Linked DNA regions of Homo sapiens. The protein of the gene in region 1 purifies or fractionates together with the protein of each later gene. This does not show direct contact. Each region holds a gene or a part of one and is shown in the gene's direction. Other genes may lie near its edges.

Region 1 (4,099 bases):
GCGGGAGGGGAGAACTGGGAAATGGGAGATCTAAGGAGGGACCGGGGAGAAGACCTCACTCACAGTCCCCCGGGGGCTCCAGACTGCATCTTCCGGCACTCCTGTCTGCCTGTGACCGCAGAACACGGCCCTCCCTCCCCCTGGCTCTGTGTCCCGCACACTCACAGAGGCAGAGCAGCCCGCGTGGCCAGAGCCGGGGGAGGGGGCCTCAGCGCGCGGGCCTGGCGCGCCCAGTCCCGGGTTCGCGGAGCCTCGCTCCGCCGCCCGAGGGGCCGTAGTGGGTGCGAGCCTTGCGCCCGTTGCACGGTCAGGGGCCACCCCACGCCGGCGGGACTGCGACTAGAAGAAATGTGGGGCTCTCCCGCGTGCCCCACACTGGGGTCGCTGGCCAGAAAGAGCAAACAAGAGTTGGGAGAGGGGCTGCGCCCGCGCGCCTGCGCAGAGCCAGAGCCGGCCCTCCAGGCTGCAAGGAAAGGAGCGCCAGAGGCGGTGAGGGGAAGGTCCTTTGTGGCACTCGGCTAGTTTCACGGCCGTCAGCCTCGTCCTCGGCTCCTCTTACTCCCGCACAGCGTGGCCCAGGCCCCAGAGTCTCCCTCGCCTTTCTTTCGACGTTGAGCCCCCCGAGGAATCACAAGGCGCTCGGAAGACTCATGCCTGCCCGAAACGGGTCCGAAATGTTTCCAGAGCCCGCGTCGTCCCCTCAGTTCCCCCTCCCGCAGAGGCCGTAACGGGGCGATGCTATCGCCGCGGACACGGCCAGACGCTCGGAGCTGGAGGGAAGGCCCCGGGAAACGGCTCGGGCAAACGTCCGAACCATGGGCTCCGAGGCAGGTGCAGGGCGGACGACTCAGCGGGGGGTTTCCGGCGGGCATGGTGACTCCCTCCCCTCCCCCGCGATACTCGTCCCCCAAACACAACTAAAGGGAGAGTGCACTGTGCCCGGCTCGTGAGCAACCCGGCCCCAGGTGGTCCCCGGCCCTCACGGAGCGCCCCTGGGAGAACACCTCACACGACGCGCACAAGTTCAGAGTGGTATGGGAATGAAGGAAAGGAGTGCGGCGCGGCGCTGTGACAGGGAGGGGAAGACGGGGAGCCGGACGCACGACCGGCGAGCACAGAAGGGCACAGGAGCTGCTCCGCGAGATACCAGCGAGCTGAGGCGCGGGGCTGGCTGGGAAGTAGTCCCGGCCGGGCCCTGGCCCCGCCCCTGCAGGGCGGAGGGACGCATCACGCAGGGGTGGGGAAGCCGGATCCGTGCGCAGGGTTGCTAAGGGTGAAACTTTTCATTGACTTTGCTCACTTCGGGCCGGGGCGCGGGAAGGTGCGGGTTGTTGGCTGAGGCAAGCCGTGGCTCGGGCGACGCGGGGCCAGGAGGGCAGGACCGTCTGCCGGCGACAGCCCATACCGTCTGCCGTTGCGCGACACGAACCACCCTCCGATCCGCCATCCCCGCGTCGTCGCCGCTAGTCCGCCCGCCCGCCCTCGGGCCCCCCGCTGCCGAGCCCGACCTCCTAAGAGCTGAAAGAAATTATTGAGAGTCATAGTCCATAGCCCCCTGCTTCGTCCCCCAACCCTCAACGACGAAAAGGACTTCGGTCCCCTGGCCCGGCGACGCCCGGGAAGGAAAGGAGAGCGACCTCCGCCCCGCGCTCAGGCCACCCTGGAGGGAGAAGCCGCCCCGCGGCCGGTAGAGCGCCCCGCCGCCGCGGAGACCCGAGTGAGTGAGTTGGGGGGCGTGCGGGCGGGGGGCCCGCCCCGAGACCCAGCCGGCCGGACTACCTCTTCCACCCCGCCCCACTCCCGCTTTGCTGGACTCTCCACGTTGCTGCCGCTCCCTCCCCGCCTGGCCAGCATTTTCTTTCCCCATCCAGCTTCCCTCCAGACCCCACTTTCCCCAGCTCCTCTTCTCACGCCATCTGTGCTCCTGGGGTGCCCAAGAGCTCCTTTTTCTCCCAGTTCCAAGAGTGGCCCTCTCCTGGGTGGGGTGCATTTCCTCCCTTCCCCGCCTCCCCCGGTTCTTTATATCCTAGCTACTCGCTAGATCTTCCTTGTTCTCCAAAGAAACATAACTCCCCCCACCGTTAAATAAATCCGAGGAAGGAAGGGGATCCAGGCCTTGTTTTTCTGCTTCTTTTCCCGTGTGCAGGGAAGGGGGGTGGTAATTGTTAATAGACTCTATTTCTGGCTCTGTGGAGCCTGAAGGGTGGAGGGTGGACACCCCCTTTGGCGACGGGACAGGTCAGTGGAGATTGTCCTTGGGCCACTGAGCCAGAGTTCACCGTTTCGGCTGAGCTCTTTATACTCTTAAGTGTTTTAATGGAAAATTGGGCAGAAAAAAGTACCCTTAGAGCAGTGCCAGTGAGTGGATTCTGCTTATCTTGGTAAGGTGCCTGCGAGGTGGGGCCCTACCCCCAAACTCCTTCCCCTCCTGTCCGGAGGATGAACTGTGCCCTTGACCACCAGAAATCTGGGAGGGGAAGGAGGGTGCAGAGAGGAGGCACAGCCGGCAGGCCCTCTCCCTCCCCCAGGAGAAACCAGAACCCCGCACAGCAAGCTTCAGCTTGGGGACGGGTGGAGGCCAGTCTCTGGTGCTACTCCGTATCTAAACGGTCTTTTTCTCCTTCTTACCCACCGTACCCTGGGAATGGGTCCTTCATCTCTGATTTTCCGGCAGAAAAACAATCCTATTGCTTTCTTGGGCTTCTACCCCCATCCCTCCGTGAAGCATAGGGGGAAAGAAGCTTGTGTGGGAGGAAGGATTAAGGAGGTTTAACACCCAGCGGGGGAGCTTGCCGAGGATCTGGTAAGTCTGGTCGTAAAGCAGACCTTGCAATGGGAGGAGACACACAGAATTTTAGTATGAGAAGATGCTCAGGTGTCAGGTGTACAGTTTTTTTCTTCTCTGCCTGGGAACCTTTTCCTATTTCCCTCTCCCGGATCTGGTTACTCAGTCTTCGATTAGAAATGGGGTGAGGCTTGGGCCCTGCTGGCCTTGGCCTGGCGCCTCCCCACAGCTTGACTGGAAATTTCTTTGGCCGAGAGGACGGGAGAACTGGGTTTGATTCCTGCCTTTCCTTTCCTGGCTGTTTGGGGTGCTGGAGCCGAGTCCGCTAGGCATTAAGTGAAAAAGATCCGTTTCCCTTTGAATCCACCGTCCATCCAGCAACCCCACACGGACCGCCCAGGCCCTGGAATTCAGATTGGGTGGGGGGAAGGGGGTCGTGACCTTATCTAAGCCAGCCCACCCCCTTCACCCAGAAAAAACTCATTAGAAGCAGATCCTAGTTTCATCAGTAATGGGAGGCGATGAAGGGAAAGGTGGGAAAGTTAGGCTCTCGTAAAGCCTAGAGGATGTGGTGGGGCCATACAATACGGGGAGTAGGCCTTTTGGGTAGAATCTACATGAAATGTATTAGGCGATGGGAGGGGGGCGCCGACCCGCCTCAGCGCGCATGTGCATCGGAAACTTTTCCTGGGCTCTTCGACCCTCGGTCGGCTCCCCTTACCGGGCATGCGTATTGCGGCCAGTTGGGCCTTCGCAAAGTGCTCAGGGAAGTGTAGTGTGCAGGGAAAGTAGGTCACTCCTGCTATCGCCTGGTCCGGAGGTGTTTGAGGACTACAATTCCCAGAGTGCAGAGCGGGCCCTCACCGCCCGCCTCTCCGCCTACGTTTGGGTTGAGTCGAGTTTTCCTAGCTCCTGAGGAACATGGAGTGCCCTAGAAAGGGTCTTCATAGCCGAAAGGGGCCTTGTTGTCAGACCTAAGGTTGACCGGTCTGTGTCTAGGGGGAGATGATGAGAGACTGGGCGCGGTGTTGCAGTCAGTCAGCACCAGTCCTGGAAGCCTTTCAATACACACCCGCCTGTCTGGGCCGCTGCCTCTGGGACCAGCGAGTTGGGGCGGATCCCGTGTCTCACCAAGGAGAGGAGCTGCCTGCGTTTGGCTCTCACTCCCCGGACAGCGGCAGGGCACTCGCATCCACCCGGTCTGTGACACCTGCTGGCCCCTCCACACTTAGTTGAGTCCTGTAGTCCGTCATTGTAGGACAGTTTGCACATTTAAGGCTTAGAGGTGTCTGAGTATCTTTTTGGGTTTGGGGC
Region 2 (3,646 bases), on another chromosome or scaffold:
GAAAGTTTCTCTGAGGTAGTGTCTGTTATACCGAGGCCCCAAGAAAAGCAGGCATTAACTAGATAAAGGGAAGAGGGAAGAACATTCCAGGCCAAAGAACAGCGTGTACAAATGCCTTGTGAAGGAAATGATGAATAGAAGAAACTGAAACAGAAAGGAGATCTTGAGGCAAGAGAAAACCAAAAATATCAGTGAGTGAAAGGCTGTGAAACAAAGAGCTTTGTAGGCCAGTTTAAGGAATTTTGCCCTACCCTAGGAGAGGAGGAAGCTGCTTGTGGGAGGGTTTAGGCGTAAGAAATAGACCCCATTCTGGCCGGGCGTGGTGGCTCATGCATGTAATCCCAGCACTTTGGGAGGCTGAGGCGGGCGGATGACGAGGTCAAGAGATGGAGACCATCCTGGCCAAAATGGTGAAACTCCGTCTCTACTAAAAATACAAAAATTAGCTGGGTGTGGTGGTGTGTGCCTGTAGTCCCAGCTAGTCAAGAGGCTAAGGCAGGAGAATTGCTTGAACCCTGGAGGCGGAGGTTGCAGTGAGCCGAGATTGCACCACTGCACTCCAGCCTGGTGACAGAGTGAGACTCTGTCTCAGGAAAAAAAAAAAAAAGAGACCCCATTCTGGGCCGGGCACAGTGGCTCACACCTGTAATCCCAGCACTTGGGAGGCTGAGGCAGGTGGATCACCTGAGGTCAGGAGTTCGCGACCACCCTGGACAACATGGTGAAACCCCGTCTCTACTAAAAATACAAAAAAATAGCCAGGTGTGGTGGCGAGGACCTGTAATCCCAGCTACTCGGGAGGCTGAGGCAGGAGAATTGCTTGAACTGGGGAGGCAGAGGTTGCAGTGAGCCGAGATTGCACCACTGCACTCCAGCCTGGGCCACAGAGTGAGACCTTGTCTCAAAAAAAAAAAAAAAAAAAAAAGAAAGAAAAAGAAAAAAGAAATAGACCCCATTCTGTAGGAACTGGGAAGTTAACTTGTAGTGGTTCCTAAACCTGCTATGAGTCAGAGAACTGCCCTGGAAATTTTGATCTGTGTGCCCTGCAGTGGTGCCTAATTAGCTGTCTTTTTAACAAGTTCTCTAAGTGATTATTAATGTTAGAGAATCTCTGCAAAGATAACATAGGTTTGAGTCTTAACATTGATACTCAGAAGCTTGGTGATTTGATTTGGGCAGGTTACAGAATCTCTTTTAGTCAGATTCTTCATCTCCAGCGGAAGTGGGGAGAATTATAGATCCTCCCTTTTTGAATTCCTGGGAGGAATAAATGAGAAAATTCATTTAAATTGTTCAGTACAAGGCCAGACATGTGGTTAAGGGCTCTTAATAATTATTACTGAAAGTTCTTCAGTAAAGGTGAGGGTGATTTAGGGGATTTTTATTTTTATTTTTATTTTTGAGAGAGTCTCACTGTCACCCAGGCTGGAGTGCAGTGGTGAAATCATGGCTCACTGTGGCCTTGCCTACCGGGCTCAGGTGATCCTCCCACCTCAGCCTCCTGAGTAGCTAGGACTACAGGCACACGCCACCATGCCCAGATAATATTTTGTATTTTTTGTAGAGACAGGGTTTCGCCATGTTGCCCAAACTGTCCTCAAATTCCTCAGCTGAAGTGATCCACCTGCCTTGGCCTCCCAAAGTTCTGGGATTACAGGCATGAACCACTGTGCCTGGCTGATTTAGGGGATTAATCTTGGAGTGGTATGTATGGTGGGTTGGAAACAGAAATAAGTTAAGCCTCGGCTAGGTCTCAGTAACTTGACCATGGTCTGTAAGCATTTTCAGAAGTTTGCTTTAACATGGCTATTAGTTTTTGATGATCCTTATATAGGTTAAGTAGTTGAAGTAGATAATGTCCCTGTTGCTCTCTAAAGGACATTAAGAGGAGACTTTGGTCCCCAGAATATGTTTTACTGGTTTAACATCTACGGTATTATGTTTTTTTCTTTCTTTTTTTTTTGAGATGGGATCTTGCTCTGTCACCCAGGCTGGAGTACAGTGGTGCAGTCTTGGCTCACTGCAATGTCCATCTCCCTGTTCAAGCAATTCTCCTGCTTCAGCCTCCTGAGTTTGGGATTACAGGCACGCGCCACCACACCTGGCTAATTTTTGTATTTTTAGTAGAGATGGGGTTTTACCATGTTGGTCAGGCTGGTCTCAAACTCCTGACCTAGTGATCCACCTGCCTTGGCCTCCCAAAGTGCTGGGATTACAGGCGTGAGCCACTGCACCTGGCCTACAGTGTTACTTTGATTTGACTTTAGTTTCTTAGTTCTAGAGAGAGGCTTCACTTGCTACTTATAGAGGACTGTTTGAAACCTATCTTCATTTGCTACCCAGAGAATAGAATCTTATCTGCATATATTCACTGTAATGGGGTAGATATTTACAAAATTTCATAAATCAATATCATCTGTCAATTTTGCTTTCTCCTTATAAATATGGTGGGAGACCCATTACTTTTCATTATCCTTGCTTACATTCCTCTCTTTGGCTTATGTATCCCTGGGCCATGCAATGGTCGAGGGCAGAGAAACTTTCTGTAGCTTGTTCCTGAAGTATCAATTTTATAAGAAAATGTATATGTAAAGAATTATTTTGCTTTTTAAACAAGCATGGATTTCATAGAGCAGCAGTTCTCAAAGTATGGCCTTGCAGACCCCAGGGTTCTCTGAGACCCTTTCCACGGAACATGTGAAGTCAAGACTATTTCATAATAGTAGTAAAACATTATTTGCATTTTTCACTGCGTTAGCATTTACACTGATGGCACCGGCAACAGTAGATAAAACTCTGCACCTTAGCACCATTCAAGACATTGGAACCAATAGTAGTAATGATCATAGTTTTCATTACCATGTGCATGCAAAAAGAAAACAAAACAAAACTAGTTTCACTTAATGTCCATGATTAAACAGTAGAAGATACTCATTTTATTAACCTTGACTTTTAGATACACATATTTTTAACAATCTATATGATAAAGTGGGCAGTATGCATACTTCTGTATCCAAAGTATGATAATAGATACAATTAAGATGCAAACTGAACTGGTTGCTTTTTTGTGGCACACTATTTTTACCTGAAAGAGAGACTGACAATCAAAATTCAAAATATTTGTGCTGCGAAGGATACCATCGTAGTGAAACAGCAACCCACAGAAAGGGAGAAAATGTTTAGAAATCCTGTATCTGAAAAGGGACTTATATTTAGAATATATAAAAATTTATTACAACTGAACAATTTTAAAAAGGCCAGCGTGGTGGCTCACGCCTGTAGTCCCTGCACTTTGGGAGGCAAGATGGGAGAATCAGTTGAGGCAAGGAGTTCAAAACCAGCCTGGGCAACATAGAGAGATTGTGTCTCTACCAACCCCTCCTGCACCCCCGCCCAAAAACCAAACCCAAAAAAAGCCCAATTTAAAAACAGACAAAGGACCTAAAAAGACATTTCTTCCCCAAAAAATTATTTGAAGAAATGTCTTTTAAGGTCCTTTGTCCGTCTTTAAATTGGGGAAAAAGAAATTGGAAAAGACATTTCTCCAAAGATAAGCAAATAGTAAGCACATGAAAAGATGCTCACCATCGCCGGGCGTGGTGGTTCATGCCTGTAATCCCAGCACTTTGGGAGGCTGAGGCAGGTG
Region 3 (3,646 bases), on another chromosome or scaffold:
CAAAAGTGGTATACCCTTCAGCTCAGTTGGGAAGGCTCCCCAAAATGTCCTGTAATATCAGGGAGAGGGTGTTGGGGACTAACTGTGGGTAGAGGGGAGAACCAGGAGTATAGCATCTAATTTTCCCTCAGATAAAACTGGGAAGAACTATGACTTTGCTCAGGTGCTGAAGCGAAGCATCTGCCTGGACCAGAATACACAGGCCTGGTGTGACACCTGTGAAAAGTACCAGCCCACGGTGAGTGGACTGTTGGACTGGACTAGAGTCCTGGTCCTGCCATGGAGATTCAGCCACTATCCCATGTGGGGCTGGCTCTGTCAGCACTGCCATCCAGGGATCTCTGGTGGAGTGAGGAATCCCAGTTTGAAGACGCAGACCCAGGTCCCTGTCCAGACTCCTTTTCCTGTACATTCCCTGCCATTCCTTGTTTGTTTCTTCCTCTCAGATTCAGACCCGCAACATCCGCCATCTGCCAGATATTCTTGTCATCAATTGTGAGGTGAACAGCTCAAAAGAGGCTGATTTCTGGAGAATGCAGGCTGAGGTAAGGACTCAGACTAGAAACAAGGCTTCCGGAATAATTTTTCATTTTATCCCCCTTCTGACCTCCATATATGATTACATTCCTGAAGAACTGGATGTTTTTCTTCTGTGTTCAGGTTGCCTTCAAGATGGCAGTAAAGAAACACGGTGGGGAAATCTCCAAGAACAAGGAATTTGCTTTGGCTGATTGGTAGGTGCTGTCTTGGGAGTTGTCAAAGGATTGAATTGCCCAGTGGTTCCTCTTATCAAGACCTCTTTCGGAACAAATTTCCAATTCTTCTGACCTGATAGGAAGGAACTAGGGAGTCCAGAGGGTGTGCTGGTGTGTCCCTCCATTGAGGAGTTGAAGAACGTCTGGCTTCCTTTCTCCATTCGCATGAAGATGACCAAAAACAAAGGGCTGGATGTTTGCAATTGGACTGATGGGGATGAGATGCAGGTTGTTGAAAAACCGGGAAGAGGAAAGGGAATAAGGGAGAGAAGGTGGGGCAGAAGGTAAAGGAGGGCAGGGGAAGGTGAAACTTAGCAGAGGGAAAAGGAAGAGAATAAGGCCTAGTATTTACCTGTTAGGGGATTTTCCATAGTCACTCAGTTCAGTGTTGGGGTCCTAGATGGGCTAGGATGGAGATAACCCACCCTGGTCCCCCATCCCCCATACCCCCAACTCCCTGTCCTCTGTCCCCATTCCCCTCCCTTCCCCATCCTTAAACTTAGCTTAGCAGCCTGGGTACCCCCCTCACAGTGGGGCCCAGCCAGGGCAGAGGAGGAGCATGGTGTCTATGTGTATGACCTGATGGCTACTGTGGTACACATCCTGGACTCACGCACAGGGGGCAGCCTGGTGGCTCACATCAAAGTTGGAGAGACCTACCACCAGCGCAAGGAGGTGAGTGAGGTTGTAGAGGGCAGGAACACTCCTGGGATGGCCACAGTGAGTCCCAGATCTGTCCTTGAGTCTGAGACAGAGTGGTCCAGCCATCAATTTGTATCGCCACAGGCTTTCTTTGTATTTCCATAGGGCGTTACTCACCAGCAGTGGTATCTGTTCAATGACTTTCTTATTGAACCTATTGATAAGGTTAGTTGCAACATGTTCTGTTTCTTCTTTCATTTCCCCTTTTCCTAGCATCCTTATCTTTAGGGCTCTATAGAATGCCAGGCAGATTCAACAGGGAGGGAGGAAGGAATCCTCAGGAATAAAAACCATTAGCACTTAAAAATAGCACCTGAAAAAAAACAAAAACTAGCACCTGAGTCCTGGCCTCCGTCTGAAGTGGGGGAAAAGGAAAAGGGTGATATACATTAGCCATAAGTGCTTTTTCTCTTCTATAGCATGAAGCTGTGCAGTTTGACATGAATTGGAAAGTACCTGCAATCCTTTATTATGTCAAACGGAATCTCAATTCCAGATACAACCTGAACAGTAAGTGCTACATAGTAGACCCAAGTGTGTGGACAGTTTAGATTGGGCTTCAGGGTGAGATCTGGGACATTGCTTGCAAGTACTTAGGATTGGTAACCAGTGTTAATATTTCTGGAGATACTAAAGAGATTCCTGCTCATCAGACCTTAAATTTAGAAGTGCGAAATCCAGCCTGAGCAACATAGCAAGATCCCATCTCTTTGAAAAAAAATTTTTTTTTTTTTTTTGAGATGCAGTCTTGCTCTGTCACCCAGGCTGGAGTGCAATTGCGCAATCTCGGCTCACTGCAACCTCTGCCTCCTGGGTTCAAGCGATTCTCCTGCCTCAGCCTCCTGAGTAGCTGGGATTACAGACGCCCACCACCACACCCGGCTAATTTTTTTGTATTTTTAGTAGAGACAGGGTTTCACCATGTTGGTCAGGCTGGCCTCGAACTCCTGACCTCATGATCTGCCCGCCTCAGCCTCCCAAAGTGCTGGGATTACAGGCGTGAGCAACTACACCCAGCCTAAAAAAATTTTTTTTTTTTTTTTAATTAGCCTAGTATAGGCCAGGCACAGTGGCTTATGGCCTGTAATCCCAGCATTTTGGGAGGCTGAGGCGGGCAGATCACTTGAGCTCAAGAGTTCAAAACCAGTTTGGGCAACATGGTGAAACCCTGTCTCTACAAAAAATACAAAAAGTAGCTGGGTATGGTGATGTGCTCCTGTTGTCCCAGCTACTTGGGAGGCTGAGGCAGGAGAATCACTTCAGCCTGGGAGTCAGAGATTTCAGTGAGTCAAGATTGCATCATTGCACTCCAGCCTGGGTGACGAGAGTGAAACCCTGTCTCAAAAAAAAAAAAAAAAATTTAGCTGAGTGTGGTGGCATATACTTGTGGTCCCAGCTATTGGAGAAGCTGAGGCGGGAGGATCACTTGAGCCCAGGAGGTCAAGGCTGCAGTGAGTGAGCCATGATTGCACCAGTGTACTCCAGCCTGGGCAACAGGATGAGACTGCTTTTTTTTTTTTTTTTGGACAGAGTTTCACTCTTGTCACCCAGGCTGGAGTGCAATGGCACAATTTTGGCTCACTGCGACCTCCACCTCCCGGGTTCAAGCAGTTCTCCTGCCTCAGCCTCCCGAGTAGCTGGGACTACAGGCACCTGCCACCATGTCCGGCTAATTTTTTGTATTTTTAGTAGAGACAGGGTTTCACCATGTTGGCCAGGTTGGTCTTGAACTCCTGACCTCGTGATCCACCCTCCTTGGCCTTCCAAAGTGCTGGGTTTACAGGCGTGAGCCACAGTGCCCAGCCTGAGACCCTGTCTTAAAAAAAAAAAAAAAAAAAAAAAGCAGCTGTAAGTCTTGAGAGTGGAGTGGAAATGAGATGAGGGGGGGATGTTTGATCAGAATGGCTTAGGTTATGATGTTACATCTAATTATTCTTTTTTTTGAGACAGAGTTTCGCTCTTGTTGCCCAGGCTGGAGTGCAATGGCATGATCTCAGCTCACTGCGACCTCTGCCTCCCGGGTTCAAGCGATTCCCCTGCCTCAGCCTCCCAAGTAGCTGGGATTACAGGCATGTGCCACCACGCCCGGCTAATTTTTTTTTGTGTCTAATTAGTAGAGACGGGGTTTCACCATGTTGGGCAGGCTGGTCTCAAACTCCTGACCTCAGGTGATCCGCCCGCCTCGGCCT

What was found.
Region 2: the proteins of TOB2 (region 1) and CPEB3 purify together in Homo sapiens (co-immunoprecipitation; one study listed by IntAct). This does not show direct contact.
Region 3: the proteins of TOB2 (region 1) and PAN2 purify together in Homo sapiens (affinity purification with western blotting, with the first as the bait; one study listed by BioGRID). This does not show direct contact.

The regions. Positions count from the first base shown.
Region 1 is NC_000022.11:41,443,997-41,448,095, reverse strand, and holds the start of TOB2 (protein Tob2), read left to right. Parts: upstream 1-1,294; 5' UTR 1,295-1,717; exon of another isoform or gene 1,718-2,803; intron 2,804-2,823; exon of another isoform or gene 2,824-3,984; intron 3,985-4,099. UniProt on the Homo sapiens protein: Anti-proliferative protein inhibits cell cycle progression from the G0/G1 to S phases.
Region 2 is NC_000010.11:92,281,002-92,284,647, reverse strand, and holds part of CPEB3 (cytoplasmic polyadenylation element-binding protein 3), read left to right. Parts: intron 1-3,646. UniProt on the Homo sapiens protein: Sequence-specific RNA-binding protein which acts as a translational repressor in the basal unstimulated state but, following neuronal stimulation, acts as a translational activator.
Region 3 is NC_000012.12:56,320,399-56,324,044, reverse strand, and holds part of PAN2 (PAN2-PAN3 deadenylation complex catalytic subunit PAN2), read left to right. Parts: coding exon of another isoform or gene 1-8; intron 9-131; coding exon 132-238; intron 239-446; coding exon 447-545; intron 546-660; coding exon 661-734; intron 735-835; coding exon 836-983; intron 984-1,286; coding exon 1,287-1,430; intron 1,431-1,562; coding exon 1,563-1,622; intron 1,623-1,876; coding exon 1,877-1,967; intron 1,968-3,646. UniProt on the Homo sapiens protein: Catalytic subunit of the poly(A)-nuclease (PAN) deadenylation complex, one of two cytoplasmic mRNA deadenylases involved in general and miRNA-mediated mRNA turnover.